2 separate regions of the Homo sapiens genome follow, and region 1 is linked to region 2. Evidence: fine-mapped expression QTL. A gene starts in region 2. The other region holds a variant in brackets. All regions are shown on one strand. Distances are from middle to middle.

Evidence for each region.
Region 1: its variant is fine-mapped to the expression of XPC in whole blood (TOPMed, PIP 0.96).

Annotation. Positions count from the first base shown.
Region 1 is chr3:14,112,569-14,120,905 of GRCh38, reverse strand. CHCHD4 (coiled-coil-helix-coiled-coil-helix domain containing 4) reads left to right here. Exons shown (of 3, transcript NM_001098502.2): 2 at 4,382-4,480; 3 at 7,712-8,337. The coding sequence ends at 8,019. Among named protein-coding and RNA genes, the nearest start is that of CHCHD4, 8.1 kb to the left of the region's middle. The variant C/G (reference allele first, on the strand shown) is at 3,462.
Region 2 is chr3:14,174,309-14,182,645 of GRCh38, reverse strand. It overlaps XPC (XPC complex subunit, DNA damage recognition and repair factor), which reads left to right and starts at 4,045. Exons shown (of 16, transcript NM_004628.5): 1 at 4,045-4,180. The coding sequence starts at 4,078. LSM3 (LSM3 homolog, U6 small nuclear RNA and mRNA degradation associated) reads right to left here and starts at 3,829. Exons shown (of 4, transcript NM_014463.3): 1 at 3,765-3,829; 2 at 976-1,086. The coding sequence starts at 3,785. RefSeq lists enhancers at 3,736-3,785, 3,886-4,235 and a silencer at 4,286-4,405.

The DNA of each region.
Region 1 (8,337 bases), 62 kb after region 2:
GGCTCTGACCTAACTCAGCCAGCAGCCCCTCTCAGGTTTGTTTAAAATAAACCTGTCCCTGTTGACTGAAAAGCCACCCTTCGTGTTTCTCTCCTCTTTAATTCTTACACTTGGGTCTTCAAGCCCTAATCCAGAGTTGTTTCTCCATTCATTTTTTTCAACAAATATTGAACACCCACTTTGTCCTTGGTACTATTCTGGGCTCTCAGGATACTGCAATGAACAGAATAGACAAAAATCACTGCCTCTGAGGAGCTGACATTCCAGTGGGGGCATCAAGTGGTAAACATACATAGTATGTTGGGTGACGAAAAGCACTTTGGAGAAAGATAAAGCGGGATAAGGGAGATGGGCAGTGGTCAGGGACGGTGGCATCTGAGCAGGAGGTGAAAGCAGGGAGAAATCGCTGTGAGGGTACCTGAGGGAAGGGAAGGTGCTCCTGGAGGACAGAACACCCTGTGCAAAGGCCAGAGGTAGGCATGTGCTCAGCACATTCAAGTAAAAGCAGAGGCCAGCGTGGCTGGAGTGCAGGGAGTGATGGTGGGAGATGGGGTCGAAGAGGTGAGGGATGCAGCTCTTTCTGGATGTATTTGAAGATCGAGCCATTCCAATTTGCTGTTGGAGATGTGAGAGAAAGACGGGTTGGGGTGGCTCTACCGAGAGTAAAACTAAACAGCTGGGGGTGGAAGGTGTCTTTGTATCTGACTGCTCACTCAGTTCTGTTCTCAGCCCCACCCTGAAGTCCTGCACTCAGAGTAACCCCTCGGGCCTCCAGTTCCCCACTCTGACCAAGGTTCTGGGGTGGGGACTGAGTTGATTCTGGATGACCTCCTCCTTGTGCACTTTGAGTTCAGCTTTCTTCACTGGTTAAGTCAGAGAGCACTCGACCATCAGCTCTCCCATTTCCAAAACATTATTGACATCTCTGAGCCTGTGATTGTCTCTTTTCCTGGCCATGCTATCCTTGATGCCCTTTAAAAATTGCTGTCAAGTGGGATTCCAGCTGACAGCAGAAACTCATTTCACCTCCCCAACCACGTGAGGTAGGTAGGTGGAGCTGGTGGTAAGGCCTGGTTTCTGAGGCCCAGATGGTACCTGAGCTCATACAGTGGGAAGTGCTTAAGCCCAGATTTGAACTCCAGTTCTCAGACTCTCTGTGATATTGAAATATTGAAGCCACTGTGCACCAGAGGGTTTAAGGTAGTTTTCCACCTCCTTCAGAACATGCATATTCAACTGCTTTTAAAGCTTATCTTAGAAATAAAAACACAAGCACTTTTAAATTTTATTTCTCTAGAGAAATTGCTGACAAATGTCATGAGAACTACTAGTCTAGCTGATTGTCCCACTAGTTGGCATCTTACGACTAGTCTGACCAGTCCTTTCTTTCACAGTTAGGTCTGTTAGGAATAGGTAAGCCTTGTCCTTGCATCAGTCCTTGAATCGACTTTTAAAAGTTCCAGAAAGCAAAGGCCCTCTAGGACAGGCATACAATGGACAGTTTGTAGGGGACATACTCCAGATCTTTCAGACCAGAGTTCCTGTTCCTGTTCTGCCTTCATTTACTGCATGTCTTTTGGTCTGTTTCTCAGATCCTGTGGTCTCTGTAAAATGGAGATAAAGTAATACCCACCAGTGAACTCACAGATGTAATAAAACACATTGCATGGGACAAAAATGTGTAAAAGATACAGCTGTTACTGTTCTACTTTCGATCCAGTGTGAACTGTGCTGCAAGGGAAAATGTCCAGGAAGGCACATGTGAGGACCTGGCCCAGTGGGAGGGACCTGGAATTCTCAGTGGGATTGTGCTAGGCTGGTGTTTCCTAACCTGGCTGTGTATCACAGTCACCTGTGAAGCCCGTGAGCTACATGGACATGGCAGAGAGCTCGATTCAGCTTTTCTTGGGTGAGGCCTGGTCTCTCTATGTATGGCAAACCCCAGGAGGGCCTCATACTTTACCACGTTTGGACCCTTTGCTTTCTGTGCCTGTGACTGGGCCTCCCCGTTGGGCTGCGCTGAGCTGCCATCTCGGTAAACAAAACTGCCAGAGCTGAGTTGCGAAATTTGCATCAGCTCATTCTGCTTAGCGTTCAACATTTTTACAGATTGCTTTTGAGTATTTTGGAAACTGGCCAGAATAGTAGAATCAAGGTTACTAGGTACTTTAACAAGTCCTGGCTGCCTGGTCCAAAAGCTTTCCCCAGTCAGCCACAGGGGAAAAGCAGCCTTCTGTTGGATGACATGCAAGGTATTGAGGCAGAGGCCAGCTCTGGGAGCAAAAGCCTCCAGTGGGTTGGGGGTCCTGGCCCCGTGTGCTGAGGGTTTTTTGTTGTTACTCTGTTCTAGTGTAAGAGACCCTGTGCAGTGTGGGCATGGCGTAAGGCACCAAAGTGCCCTCCCTCTGTCCCCTGAACTGTCCTTCTCACTGGAGATGTCGCTCGGTTTTTGTTGTCACTGCCCCCTTCCTTCCAGAAGCCTCTTCCTTAATTACTTCAGCCCAAGCATGGGCCCAAACCTTTTTCCTTGCTTTCCCCTCAGCATAGCTGTGACTGAACTTTTCTAAATATAAACAAAAAGTATAAAGTGATCAGAGATGCCCGCAGCTTTCACAGGGCCACGTTTCTGCAGGTCCGGCCTCTGCGCCCACAGTGGCCACTCACTCAGAGCCATGCACTGTGGCTCTCTGCCAGGCACTTTTGGCCATACCTGAAGAAGTCTTCTTAAATGCTTGGCACCTCCTATCCCCTTCCAGATGAGGGTCCCAGTACCCCAGATCTTCTAGGATCAGAATGCATGGTCAGTTGGTCTGTAGAATTTGTCATTCACCTTCACCAGGAAAGTACAAGAAAGATCTTGTTTGTTTACTTGGCAAACATTTCACTTGGTTCTAAGCTTTTTGGGGCCGAGGTTGGGTCAGAATTTATTGTATTTATTCATTGCCCAAGGTGCACAAGCTCTCAGGCAGTGCCCAGTCATGCTAAGTGCTCAGTGTCAGCTGTCGATTATTCTTGTGCAAATGTTGGTGCGGGGCAGTATGGGTGTGTAGAAAGGATCTCCAACAGTGTAGACTTCAGAGCATCCTGTCCTGTGTGGCCCAGCAAGTTACTACTCACAGCCTCAGGCTCACCACCATTAAAAGGGGATGCTGCTACCTCCCTCTCAGGGTGGCGATAGGATGGAGGAATGAGCTCACACGGAGGACCAAAAGATGGACTGGCTCTGTCTGTTCTCTGGGGACAGCTGGAGAAACTGATGACCCACCGTGCAGTGTGGGGTACTGAGGACAAGGTGCTCCTTGCCCACAATGGGAATATCTGACACATACCTGTGGTGTGGTTAGCTGATGGCCAAAGTTTTTAGGGAGGTGAGGTAAAGTGTTGACAGCTACAAGGTGTAGCAGAGAGGGCTGTAAGGACCTCCCTTCTGCTTAACTCAGCCTTGGTTTTCTGTTGTACTC[C/G]ATGGGGGCTGAGGGTGATAATACTTCATAGGGGGTCACTCTAAGGCAGTGAATGCACCCACCCTGGTTTGGCCAGGACTGATGTGCTTTTCTGTGCTCACCCAGCCTCCAGTGAGGAGAAGCTCCTAATATAAAATGCATTTGACTCTCACTGGTCTGTTTTCCTGGAGCCCTCAGACCTTCCGGCAGCCAGGCCCCAGGGTGAGGGCTCTGGTTGTGAACAAGGTGCTCTGCACTTTAGGCCTGCTGGCTTTCCCATGCTGGTCCTCACAGGACCACAGTCCTGACCCTAACCACTGTTGGGTTTGTCCTAAAAAAATAAACTGCAGATGGTCACAGTTAAAAAGATCTGAGAAGTGCTCCTCCCACTGCCCCCCTCCAGTTATTATACTTGTTGGGAAATGGTCCCCCGGCCTCTTGGACTGTGGGGAGTGGAACGGCTGCAGTGTTCCTCACCTTATGACCCTTCCTTCTTCCGGCCACGATTAGGAGCCCAGAGGCCTAGTGGGGGTGCTGGCTGTGGTCCCTCTCAGACCACCTGTGTCCTCAGCCTTTCAGAGGCAGGGGCCTGTGGCCGCATCAGCTATGTGGGCTGCAGTGATCTGTAGGCTGAGGACCCACATCACTGCACACTCACTTTGCCAATGTGCTCAGTCTTCCTTCAACTTTTATGCATTCTGAACCCTGTGGGTCAACCCCAGGACACTCTTTTTCTTCAGTGCTTCTTTTCCTGCCCTGCCCCTTATCCATCCGCTTTTGTTTGCTACCCCTAGCATATGAGAGCAGTTTGATAGTCACCTCACATAGGGATGGCATATGGGAGAGTCTTCAAACTTGGTTTGTGTGGCGGCTGCTTTGGGTTTAAAGCTGATTCACTGCTCTTGAATGAAATATTTCTTCCTCTGTTCTCCAAACACTAGGGAAGGATCGAATCATATTTGTAACCAAAGAAGATCATGAAACTCCAAGCAGTGCAGAATTGGTGGCTGATGACCCCAACGATCCATACGAGGAGCATGGTGAGTGACATGTGGCCTCCCAGGGACCCACACCAGGGCACTGGGGAGAAGCTCAGTGTTCTTAATTCCTTTCCCATGTTTTCCTAGCCAAGGCCAAGTTTTCAGGTATCTATTCTCAGCCATAGACCATCTCTGAGGGCAGTGGTTTATCTTCCTCAGAGGTTTGAGGGACTGTGCTTTCCAGCCTTGTTCTGATGTACTTCCCTGGCACAACAGCTAAGTTTTGGGAGAGGGTATTAGTAGATTCCAGCAGTTATAGGTAGGTTAAGGTGACAGGGCTTTTGCTCAGACAAGTTGCCAGACTGAATTCTGCCACATCTACCAACTTTATTAGCAAGTAGACAGTCATTCACCTTGTTCTGTAAGGTTGGTGAAGTCCCTGCTGTCTCTAACTGCTCCAGCAAGCACCTTACATGAAAAGGTCACTTGCCACAGACAGCTTTCTAGCAGCAGGAGTCAGCTAACCTAGTCAGAGCTGTTGCTCACTCCTTGGTTAATGGCTGAATATAACAGTGGTCGCTTAGGCCTAGGACATTGTTCCAAAGGATTTGGGCTGCTAAACTCACTAGATACTTACTACTGCAGACCGTGTGAGGTGGATGTGTGTGTGCAGTGTCCATGAACAATCTACGTATTGTACAGTAGTCACTTCACCAATCAAAAACCACTTCTGATGTCCATGATGACAACTAATCTTCTAGTGCTAACTGGTAATTGAAGAGCTTGAAGCAGCCGCCTCGAGAATATGGGCTCCTGATTGGAATTTCTCAAATGCTAACTGATGTGTGTATATTCCTTGTAGGACCCTTCACTTGTTGCCCTGACTGCTCCTAGGGGTTAAAGCATAAAATACATATCCAGCACCCAGTGGGAGCAGTGGGAAATGCAGACGTTATACAAAGTGTTAGCATTCTGAGAAAGACAGCTGCAAGGGTAATCTTGATCAGGGCTTACATGTCAATTCTAGTACCTTGCTTATCTTTAGATCCATATTAAGCACATTTCATTAATTGATCAAGACTGTGGAGGCCTGCAGGACAAATCGGGCCTTGTTTTGTTTGCCTCACAGTGTTATTAAAAGCAGTACGTATCTGCCTTTAGACTGGTCTGCCCCCTCCAGATCCCACCATTCTTTCCTGTCCCTGTTGTTTTTTTTTACCTGCTTCTGTCACTTGCAATGTATCTGCTTGGATAGTAGGTATACCATATGATGCATTTGGCTTTACAGCCCCTTATAGTGAATACTTTGTAAAAAGAAGCCTATAAAACGCAAAGAACTCTGGGACCCAAGTTTCAAGCTCTTAAACTGCAAAATTAGTAAGTGGACCAAGTAAGCCACCATTTTATGCCATCTACCTGCCTTCCAGCATCCAGCTCTGCAGCTGAGATGGTGCTTGGAATAGCTAAGAGTACCAAGAAAAAAGGTGGCAGAATTAATTTTCCTAGAATCAAAACATCAAGAGGGCCTTAAAGATCATCTGATCCAATGAGAAAACTGGGGGCCTGGGCGGGGGCGGAGACTGACTCAGCCAGAGACTGGAACTTCAGGCCTTAGACTGCATGTTTGACAACACACTGCATCTGAGCTTTATGTAACATGCCAAAGGTACCCTCTGTGTGGATTTATATTGTGTCCCTGAAATGCAAATTGGCACCATGTGCTTTGTGAGGAGGTATCTCATTCCAGCTTACCTGCCCCTAAGAAACAATGAAACAAGGACTCCTGGAGACCTAGGTTATACATTTTTTGTTATGATTTTTTTTAATCAACCACCTGGTCAATTTGTACTGGGTTGTAATTTTTAAATGTCAGTATTACCTCTTTTGGAAACTGGTTGTGCAGGTTTGTGAGCAGATTTGAAGCTCCAGGGGGCAGCATTTGCAAATGTTTCTCCAGCACTGAGGTCCATTTCAAGAAGTGGTGAGATGTAGGGGAAGGGGCATGGACTCTGGGAATCCTGTCAGCCCAGTCTGCAGTCCTCACTTGGACCATGAACCCCAGAGACTGCATGAGTAAACTGGGGTTAGTAGCACCCACTGCAGAAGGTTGTCAGAAGGCTTATGTGAGTTACCAAACGTAGCTTAATGCAGGAGAACTTGATCTGCAACTGCTGATGGTCCTGGGGGTCTGCGCCTGCTAAGGGGGCAGCACTAGTTGGCATCGTCCTTGCTGTCCCCATTTTACAAGTAAGGAACAGGAATAGCTACAGCAGATCCATTGATCAGTGGAGCTTCCCAAGCTGGAATTGAAGGCAGGCGGGGTTTCGCCTAGGACTTTGGACGTTAGTGCAGAGTGCCAGGCTTGGGTACTGCCCTGGAGTGAAGAATCATGTGTAATTTCACAGGACCTTTTAGAGGCTCTCTTAGAAAGTACTTTCAGTCTCTTAATAAGAATCATGTAAGAAACTTCTGTATGAATCATGTCTTCACAAAGCTGAAAATGAAGCCATCGTTTTGAGAGCATTTTGGAAAACCAAGAAATACTATTTAGATGTGAATAAAGTTCAATGATAAGAAAAGGTATAAAAGTCAAAAGTAAGAAGCCTATTAATATAGTGAAAATGAAAACCCATCTATAACCTTGCTTCCTGCCCAACACATATGTGCAGTTTAACAGGTTTGGTTGATTTTTACAAGAATGCACTCGCACTAATGGTATGCCACCAGCTTCTCATTGTGCAGCATGTCTTGGACATCTTTCTTCGTCAGTACATAAGGAGCAACCTCCTCCTTTTCACCAGTCCCCAGGCTATGCTGAGCTTCTGAGAGCAGCTGCAGGGCAAGAGGGGCTCAGGGGGGCAGGGAGCATGGGGGTGGGGTGGTCCTGATCATCCATATGGGGAGGGGGATTGGAAAGAGGAGATCAATACCTCAGTTCCTTAAAGTGTTTGGGCTTTCAAAAAGCTCCTCACTAACCATCCAAGTGATCTCCTCTTCTTTGGGCTAAATGGGTCCCGGTATTTAATTCTTGGAGCACAGCCTCAGAGCACTGAGAGGTGGCTTAGAATAAATTAGTGTCACACGTGGAGAAATATGTCATTGGTGGCTTCTCTCCCAGGTGGGCCAAGGAATGCTGGATATGTGCTAGGCTTTAAACCTAATCCAAATCGAGGTGTGGGTCCATAGGCAACAATAGTTCCTGTTCTGCACCCCCTCAGTAGCCTGTGAGGACTGGACTAGTTTTGTATTTTCTGAAACTTTAGAGAACATCTCTCTATCTTCCTGTTCTAGGATTGATACTGCCAAATGGAAACATTAACTGGAACTGCCCATGCCTTGGGGGAATGGCCAGCGGTCCCTGTGGAGAACAGTTTAAGTCAGCCTTTTCCTGCTTCCACTATAGCACGGAGGAGATCAAGGGGTCAGACTGTGTAGACCAGTTCCGGGCCATGCAGGAATGCATGCAGAAATACCCAGACCTCTATCCCCAAGAGGATGAGGATGAGGAAGAGGAAAGAGAGAAGAAGCCAGCAGAACAAGCAGAAGAAACAGCTCCCATTGAGGCCACTGCAACCAAAGAAGAGGAGGGATCAAGTTAATGAAGGCCACAAGGCACTGGGCACCAGTCCTTTTGGAGTGGACCTTTTGCAAAAGGCCTTGTCATCACCTTCCAAGAAAGTTTCCTTCTGTTGTCCTGTGCATTATAATATACAAAATAACTTATTTTGATGATCAGAGGTCTTGAGGTCTTGACATCTTGACATATACACTGAAAAAAATGGGGGTTGTATGTATGTGTGTCCTACCCAAACCTGTGGCCGCCACTTTTGAATTCTCAGATTGCCCTGAATTTTGCCACTTTTAAATAATGTGCTGAATAAGCTCAGCAACTAAAAACCATTACCCAAGAACGTTTC
Region 2 (8,337 bases):
AGAGTAGCAATACTAAAAACAACACACTTAGGAAAGTAACAAGTCATTAAGGAGAGGCAAAACCTTCAGGGTTCTCTATGAACAAATGGGATTATTTCAAGGGACCAATTCTACAGATATTTTGCAGATATGCACAAAGAAATATGTAAAAAAATGCTTACTGCAAGTATTTACGTATTTGTAGCAAGAAATGAAAAAAAATCGATCACTATCATATACAGAATCCTAGGTAGTCATTAAAAAGAATAAACGAAAATTAAATGCACTCATGATCAATTTCCAAGAAAGATTAAGTGAAAAAAAAAAAAGGTACTGAAAAACATGTATGGCAAGATCCATGTTTTGTAGAGGTAGGGTGTACATAATGCAAGTATGTGCACATGTACATATATGAGTGTATATGTGTAAACATACAGAAAAGGTAACCCAATTTTTAAATTTTATTTTTTGTAGAGACAGGGTCTCTCTATGTTGCCCAGGCTGGCAACACAGAGAACTCCTGGCCTCAAGTGATCCTCCTGCCCCAGTCTCCCAAAGTGCTGAGATTACAGGAATGAGCCACTGCACCTGGCCAAGATAATCCCATTTTTAGTAGTGATTACCAGTAGAAGAAATGGGATTTCACTTTTTACTCTATATATTTTTGTGCTGTTTAACTTTTCCTAATAAAACACATATTTGTGTTTTAAATTTAAAAAACATTTACGAATGGAGGACAAGTAAATATTATTTACAAATAAACAGAAGGGAAAAATGAAGGGAATAAAAATGTTCTATAATAAACGTATTTCTATTAAAAGAAAAAATGTTAAAAATGTGAATACATGCCGCTTTATTTGGCTTATGTGATATGGGTGACTTTCCACCACCCTCTCTTCCTTCAAAATACCCTTTCACTCTGGACAGGTTTTACATTTCAAGGGAGTGGGGGTAGGAAGGAATCTGATTTCAAGGTAACTTGATAAATTTACTTACATGTAATCTGCCTCGAAGCTCTCGGTCATTTCTCATTTTCACATAAATTCGCTCATCTAGGCTGAGCCTGATAAGATCCAGGGGCTCCTCTACAGTGTTGGTAGTTTGTTGCTGATAAAAGAAACAGGATTAGTAATGTAGTACTAGAGTCAGAGTAGTGCTTAAATCACTGCTATGCTGTGTGACCATGGGCAAGTTATTTAACCTTTTTCTGCCTCAGTCTCCTAATCTGTAAAATGGAGATAATAGTGTCTACCTAATACTGTTTTTGTGAGGCTTAAGTGATATACATGAAGGCTTAGAACAGAGCTTTTCACATAATACGTGCTATATAAATGTAGGTTAAAACACACATACATGAGAAGTTACACAGCAAAATAATCATGACTATACTTTGTTCCCTCAAAATCCAAACTGCCTGACCCAATTTCAGGGCATAGGGTCTCAGGGACTTTAGCTTTATCTCAAATATTATGTAATCATTGGAAAAACACTCACTTAATGCCTACCATACACTAGTCAGAATGCCAAATAGAGGTGTAGGTTTATGGGAAGATTATGAATTCAGCACAGGTTGAGTTTAGGCTGCCAACTGGTGAATAAGATAAATATATTTAGTAGCCAGTATAGAACACTGGTTGAAAGCACTGGCTTAGCCGGGCATGGTGGCACATGCCTGTAGTCCCAGCTACTCCAAGGGCTGAGGTGGGAGGATTGCTTGAGCCTGGCGAGGTGGAGGTTGCAGTGAGCCAAGATCGTGCCACTGCACTCCAGCTTGGGCAACAGAGTGAGACTCTTGTCTTTTTTTTTTTTAAAAAAAAAAAAAAAAAAAAAAAAAAAAAAAAAAAAGGCAAGCAAGCACTGGCTTTGGAGTCAGGCAGTCCGGGTTCAACTCCTGGCTGTGACCTGACATTTATGAACTGAGATTAAAAATCATGCCATCTGTAATTCTCAGATTCTTCATTTGTAATTGAGAAAGCCACAACCTTCTTTCTGGGTTCTTATGAGGATTAAACTAGTTAATGCATTTAAAAACAGTGCCAGGAAAACAGAAAATATTAATATTTAGAAATGGTTCCTATTGGCCGGGCGTGGTGGCTCACGCTTGAATCCCAGCACTTTGGGCGGCTGAGAAAGGCAGATCACCTGAGGTTAGGAGTTTGAGACCAGCCTGGCCAACATGGTGAAACCCCATCTCTACGAAAAATACAAAAATTAGCCAGGTGTGGCGGCACGCACCTGTAGTCCCAGCTACTTGGGAGGCTGAGACAGGAGAATCACTTGAACCCAGGAGGCAGAGGTTGCAGTGAGCTGAGATCACGCCACTGCACTCCAGCCTGGGCGATAGAGTGAGACTCCATCCAAAAAAAAGAAAAGAATAGAAAAAAAAAGGAAAAGAAAAGATTCCTATTAATATTATATTATTACAGAACTGCTGGAAACATTGGTTTTAGAGGTCAGGGCTAGGATGACTTGGGGTCACCCACATGGAAGGGATGGTTGCAGCCGCTAAGAGTTAGAAAGATTATTCAAGGAGAGCTTCTTCAGTAAGTACACAAGGCCAGTGGAGGAAGGTAACTGAATTGGTAACAGGCTCTGAAGATTCAAAAGGCCTGATGAGAGAAAAAAATAACCTAACTCAACTGGTCCCTATGTCCCTCAGTTCAACAAGTGTTTGTTAAAGGATCAGATAACCAACTGTTAGATTACAATGATAGAGAAGTCACAATCCCCACCCTCAAGGAGCTCATTCTACTGTGGAGAGGCATACAAATAATTATAATACTGTAAGAATATGCACATGAAAAAGCCCTACTGCTACCTAAGCCTCTGTCTGGGATGCCCACTGTCTGCTCTTTTCATCCTGTAGCTTTAAATATTGGCTTCTCAAAGAGGCTTCCTCTGATCATCTAACTCATTCACTCAAATATTTTTTGAGTGTTTCCAGCACTGTTCTAAACCCCAAAGACAAAAGAATGAACAAAACAAAATCCCTGCTCTTATGGCATTTACATTCTAGTGGGGAGAGATTCACATTAAACAAAGATGCATACATTTAATATGAAAAAATAACTCTCTATGAAGAAAAATGAGGCAGGGTAACCAGAGTAGCGGGAGTGCTATTTGGGCAGAAGTCCTCTCTGAGGAGGTCAGATTTCAGTAGAAAGTTTAAGTTGTGGCATGATCTCCAAAGATATTTGAGGAAGAAAAAGACCAGGTGAAAAAGCTTCTAGGACCATCTGTTATTCTGCATACCAGTTCCTTGTTTCCTTCACAGCACATCACAGTTCCTGGAAGTCTTACATATTTATATTTACTTTTATCTGTTCTCCTCGCAAATATAAGCTCCAAGTAATGGCAAGGATCTCTTATATGTCGATGTCAGTGTCCCTGGCCCTTAGAACAGTGCCTAACCATACAAAGCTGATGTTCACTCTATCTGCTGAATGAATAAATAATTGTTGCGCTCACTAATGATAACAACTCCTAACTTTATTACCTGGCTTTCTATTGGAATCCTGACAGCTCCATGAGGTAGCTAAGGATAATAATCTACAGATTTAAAAAAATGAAGCGAAGAGTGTGAGAATAGTCATCAGGTGGGCTTCTAACAGGAAAAGGTCTCAGGGCCTACGGCAAAATTCGGAGGGGGGGTTACGGAAAGGACAGGGTGGATTAGGCCATGGTGACTTGGAGAGAGGAGGCACGACTGGCCATTTTTCCTGAGTCTGGAAAAAGCAGCCTAGTACAAGAAGCTCCTTCGAGCGACCTCCTTAAAATACACTTACCTGGTCTACGTCGTCCGCCATGTTTCAAACCCTGCGCCCTTTCCCGCCTCTCGCGAGAACACAAGAGCAACGTCAATCTCCGGAAACGTGAGGATACAATACACCGGAAATAGAGAGAAACCTGTTGTGCTCTTTCCTGCTTCCCGCAGTTTTTTAGTGGCCACGGGTATGGGGTGGAGCTTCCTTTAGGGGCGTGACTAGGCCTCCAACGAAGGGGCGTGGCCAAGCGCACCGCCTCGGGGCGGGGCCGGCGTTCTAGCGCATCGCGGCCGGGTGCGTCACTCGCGAAGTGGAATTTGCCCAGACAAGCAACATGGCTCGGAAACGCGCGGCCGGCGGGGAGCCGCGGGGACGCGAACTGCGCAGCCAGAAATCCAAGGCCAAGAGCAAGGCCCGGCGTGAGGAGGAGGAGGAGGGTGAGAGCGAGGCCCAGCGGGCTTCGCGGGAGACGCCGCCGGTGGGCGGAGGAGGCCCAGAGGCAGGGCGGGAGTCCAGACGCGGAGGCCTGGTGGAGGTTGCTGCGCGCGTTCCGCGCCGTGGGGGCAGCCCGGCAGGCTGCGGCCGGCCCTCCCCGCTGTCCCCGCGTCTTTGTCCTGCGCACCCAGAGCGGTTTCCCGCGAGCTTCGCCCGATCCAAGCTCCTGCGTAGCTTTTTTCCCGCTCCCCGTTGTCCAGAGGATACAGATGTTCAGGGTTGAACTCGGAGAAGGCAGTTATTTGTGTCCCAGGAAGACAGACGGACGGACCAGGACGTAGAGTGATGCAGTGTGCTGACTCCCGAATGATAACTTCAGCTGAGTCTCACCCAGAGTTCCACAGTGGGATCCCACCTGACTTCCCCTCATGGATATTTGATAGGCTTCTTACATTTGTCATGGGCAATGCAGAACTCATGGTTTTCCTCTTTAAATCTATGCTTTCCTCCGTTTTTCCAGTCTCAATACTTGTTATAAAGCAAAGCCCACCTTTTTCTTATGTCCACACATCCAGTCCGTCAGCAAGTCCAGTCAGTTCAGCCTCAAGAGTGTATTTCAAATTTGTCCACTTCTCTTCATTTCCATGACCACAGCCCCTGTCCAAGTCATCATCACCTTTCAGTTGAGTGACTGCAGTTTCCTCTTTACTGGCCTCCCAGCTCTGCATCCAGCAACCCAAATAATCTTAAAAAAAAAAAAAATCATGCCCTGCTCCTGCTTTAAACTCCCCTTGGTTTTCCATTGCTCTTAGCTTAAAATCCAGTTGTTTTATCCTGGCCTACAAGATACTACATGTTTTGGCTCTTGCTACCTCTCCTGTTTCTCTTACCACTTGTTTCCTTGCCAGATACCCTCCTTATTGGCCTCCTTTCTCTTCCTCAAATATGCCAAGTTATTCCTTGAGTCTTTTCCTTTGATGTTCCTTCTGCCTAGAGTGAACCCCCCATGGCTTTTACCAGGGCTGATTTTTTCTATTTCTTCAAAACTCAAGTTAGACATTCCTTGAGCAAACTAAGGTGGTCCTTCCCAGATACCCCGCGGATACTAAAACCTGTGATGCTCAAGTACCTTATATCAAATGGCCTAGTGTTTCCATGTAACCTATGCACATCCTCCGACATACTTTAAATCATCTCTAGATCACTAATAATACCTAATACAATGTGGATACTATGGAAATAGTTGTCATGCTGTATTTTTTAAATTTGTATTTTTTTTCCCGAAATATATTCATCTGTGGTTGGTTGAATCTGTGGATGCAGGGCCCGTGGATTGGTAGGGCTAAATGCTAAATAAATATTTTATTTATTTTTTATTTTTTTCGAGACAGTGTCTCACTCTGTCGCTGAGGCTGGAGTGCAGTGGCGTGACCTCCGCCTCCTAGGTTCAAGTGATTCTCCTGCCTCAGCCTCCCGAGTAGCTGGTGTTACAGGTGCCTGACACCATGTCCGGCTAATTTTTGTATTTTTGTATAGATGGGGTTTCGCCATGTTGGCCAGGCTGGTCTCAAACTCCTGACCTCAGGTGATCCGTTTGCCTCGGCCTCCCGAAGTGTTGGGATTACAGGCATGAGCCACTGCGCCCGGCTAGTAAATATTTTAAATAATTGCAAAATGCAGGCTGTAGAAGGAATTTCTGGGTCTCCTGAAAAAACTGGGTAGATTAGACTAGGTAACCGGCAAAGGCTATCACACTAGATTCTGTTTCTATACCGGTTATAAATTCATCATCCATTAGGAAATAGTGAAATGGTAATAATTCGTAAACTTAGGAGGTGATTTACCTCATATGTAATATTACGAGTTCCATTTTATTCACTCATTTACTCATTCAAATAACATCTTTTGAGTATCTACTATGTGCTGTACATGAATGAGGTGACATGAGAGATAAACATATCTTGGAGGATCATAGAGTAGTGTTGACATGACATTTACATGTAAAACATTCAAGGCAAAGTGTGCTAAATATTGTGGAAGAAGGTACAAGGCTTTGTAGCTTCCAAAGGATTAATCAAGTTTGACTGGCGTGATCGGGGAACGCTCTCTGAAGTAGTTTGATCTGTGATTTAAAGGATGGTTGGTATTTTAGCAAGGGGTCACAAAAAGGGGCCGGTATTCTAGTCAGAATGTAATTTGGATATATGGCAATTAAAAATTTACGGTTTTAATCTGATGGAAATGCTACCTGTATTCTTCCCAGCTCAACACTTCACCTCGGTTCCAGCTTGGTAGAGCTTCAATTCTTAGTTTTATGCACTTGGGTGAATTATTTTGGACAAATGTTTTAGCCCTTCTGAATTTCCTCTGTGAAATGTAATAACTGCCTTGCGGGGTGGCTGTGAGTTTTCAGTGGGATAGCATATAAAGCCAAGAGCTTTAGCTTTACCCATGTTAGGTAAATTAGTTGGGCTAGCTGGTGTCATTCAGCCTAAACGGAGGTAAAGATGCACCCAAGTTTATTCTGCTAGCCAGAGGAGCTAGCAGTCAGTTCCCAAGGCAGCTTCCAGGATCTGCAGAGTTACAACCTTTGTTGTGGTTTGGTGGTTTTGTGGGGAAGCATAGACTTAGCAAGTATGGTTTGGGCTGCAGATGACAATAATTTGGTGACTGTCAGTGTAGTTGCTAACACTGTAATAGTGTAGGTTTTAATAGCACCCCTGTACATGCAAATGAAGGTGATACTTGGCTGCTTTTGACAAATAGGAGAAAAGAAAACAGGCTTCCACATGATTTCCTTTGTGTTACTAAAGCACCTCTGGTTTCTTTTCATTTCTTCTCTGTGTTAACACCTTCAGTGATATCCATTAATTCCTTCAACAGCTGTTTATTGAGCGCCTACTATTTTCACACACTGTTCCAGGTACTAGGATAATATTGAACAAGACAGATGAGGCACCTGCTCTCATGATTATAATCTGGGGGGAGGGGTACTTAGAGCAGATAACAAGTTAAAAAAAAACGGATTCACATGATGATAAGAGCTATCACCCTGTGCTAAGACTGCTGTGATAAAACTTATTTGGGTACATAGCAGAAAATGCTTCTATAGATGAAAAGAAAAACCCTCAAACTTATATGGGGCTGGGGGAGAGGCAGCTAAATGGGAATCAGTGTCAGGGAAGGCCTTTGTAAGGAGGTGGCATTTTGAGGCATTTAGTGTAATTTTGAGCCATTCATAGGAAGTTCTGGGGAAAAGAGTTCTAGGCAGAGAGAACAGTGTGTTTAAACACTCTTAGGAGGGAATGAACTTGGCCAGTTGGCTGGACACAGCGAGCGAGGGGCTGGGTAGGAGAAGTGAGCAAGGGCCTGAGCTTGGATACCAAGCTAAGGAGTTGGAATTTTATTCTGAGTGCTATGAGTTGCTGCTGGAAGGTTTACTCCGGTGTTCTTATTAAATCCCAGTAGATGGGCAAGCAGACCACAGTGGTAATTCCTGCCCTACTGAAAGAACACTGAACTCAAGGAGTCTGGTTAGGCATATTAGATAACTCAAGATTTTGGAGAGTCCTGGAAAAGAGTCTCTAGATGCTTAGGGACCAAAAAATAGCAGAGAACAGAAAGTCACCCATATTTCTGCCATCCAGAAATAGCCACCATGAAATAGTGGTCTGTTTCCTTCTAGTCTGTTTTTTATATAGCAGAAAGCATACTGTAAAATCAACTTTGCATGAGTAACATTACATCATATATCGTTTTTCTTTATCTTAAAGGATGACTCAATTATATTTTGTTGTGTGGCTCTGCCATAAGTTACTTAACAATTATCTCATGGTTGGACATTCAGATTATTGTTAGATGCTTTTGAATACTATGAACATCCTTTTGATTCAGAGTTTTTGTGTTTCCTTTATCCCCCTTTCCCTTTTAACTCCTCTACCTTTCTCTTCAAACGGAAATAAAAGCTGTGCTTTTTAACCAACTAGAAAAGTTTGTGATGCCTCTGAAGTATCCTCCTACGTGCATTTTTTTAGATTAGTAGAAATTGAAGTGTTTAGCATCTTTGCCTATTATTAGAGGGCTAACTACCATTGTAAGATCCAGAAATCTTGATTTTAGGGGCACCCTCCTCAAACTGTCAAATCTTAAGCTTTATGCA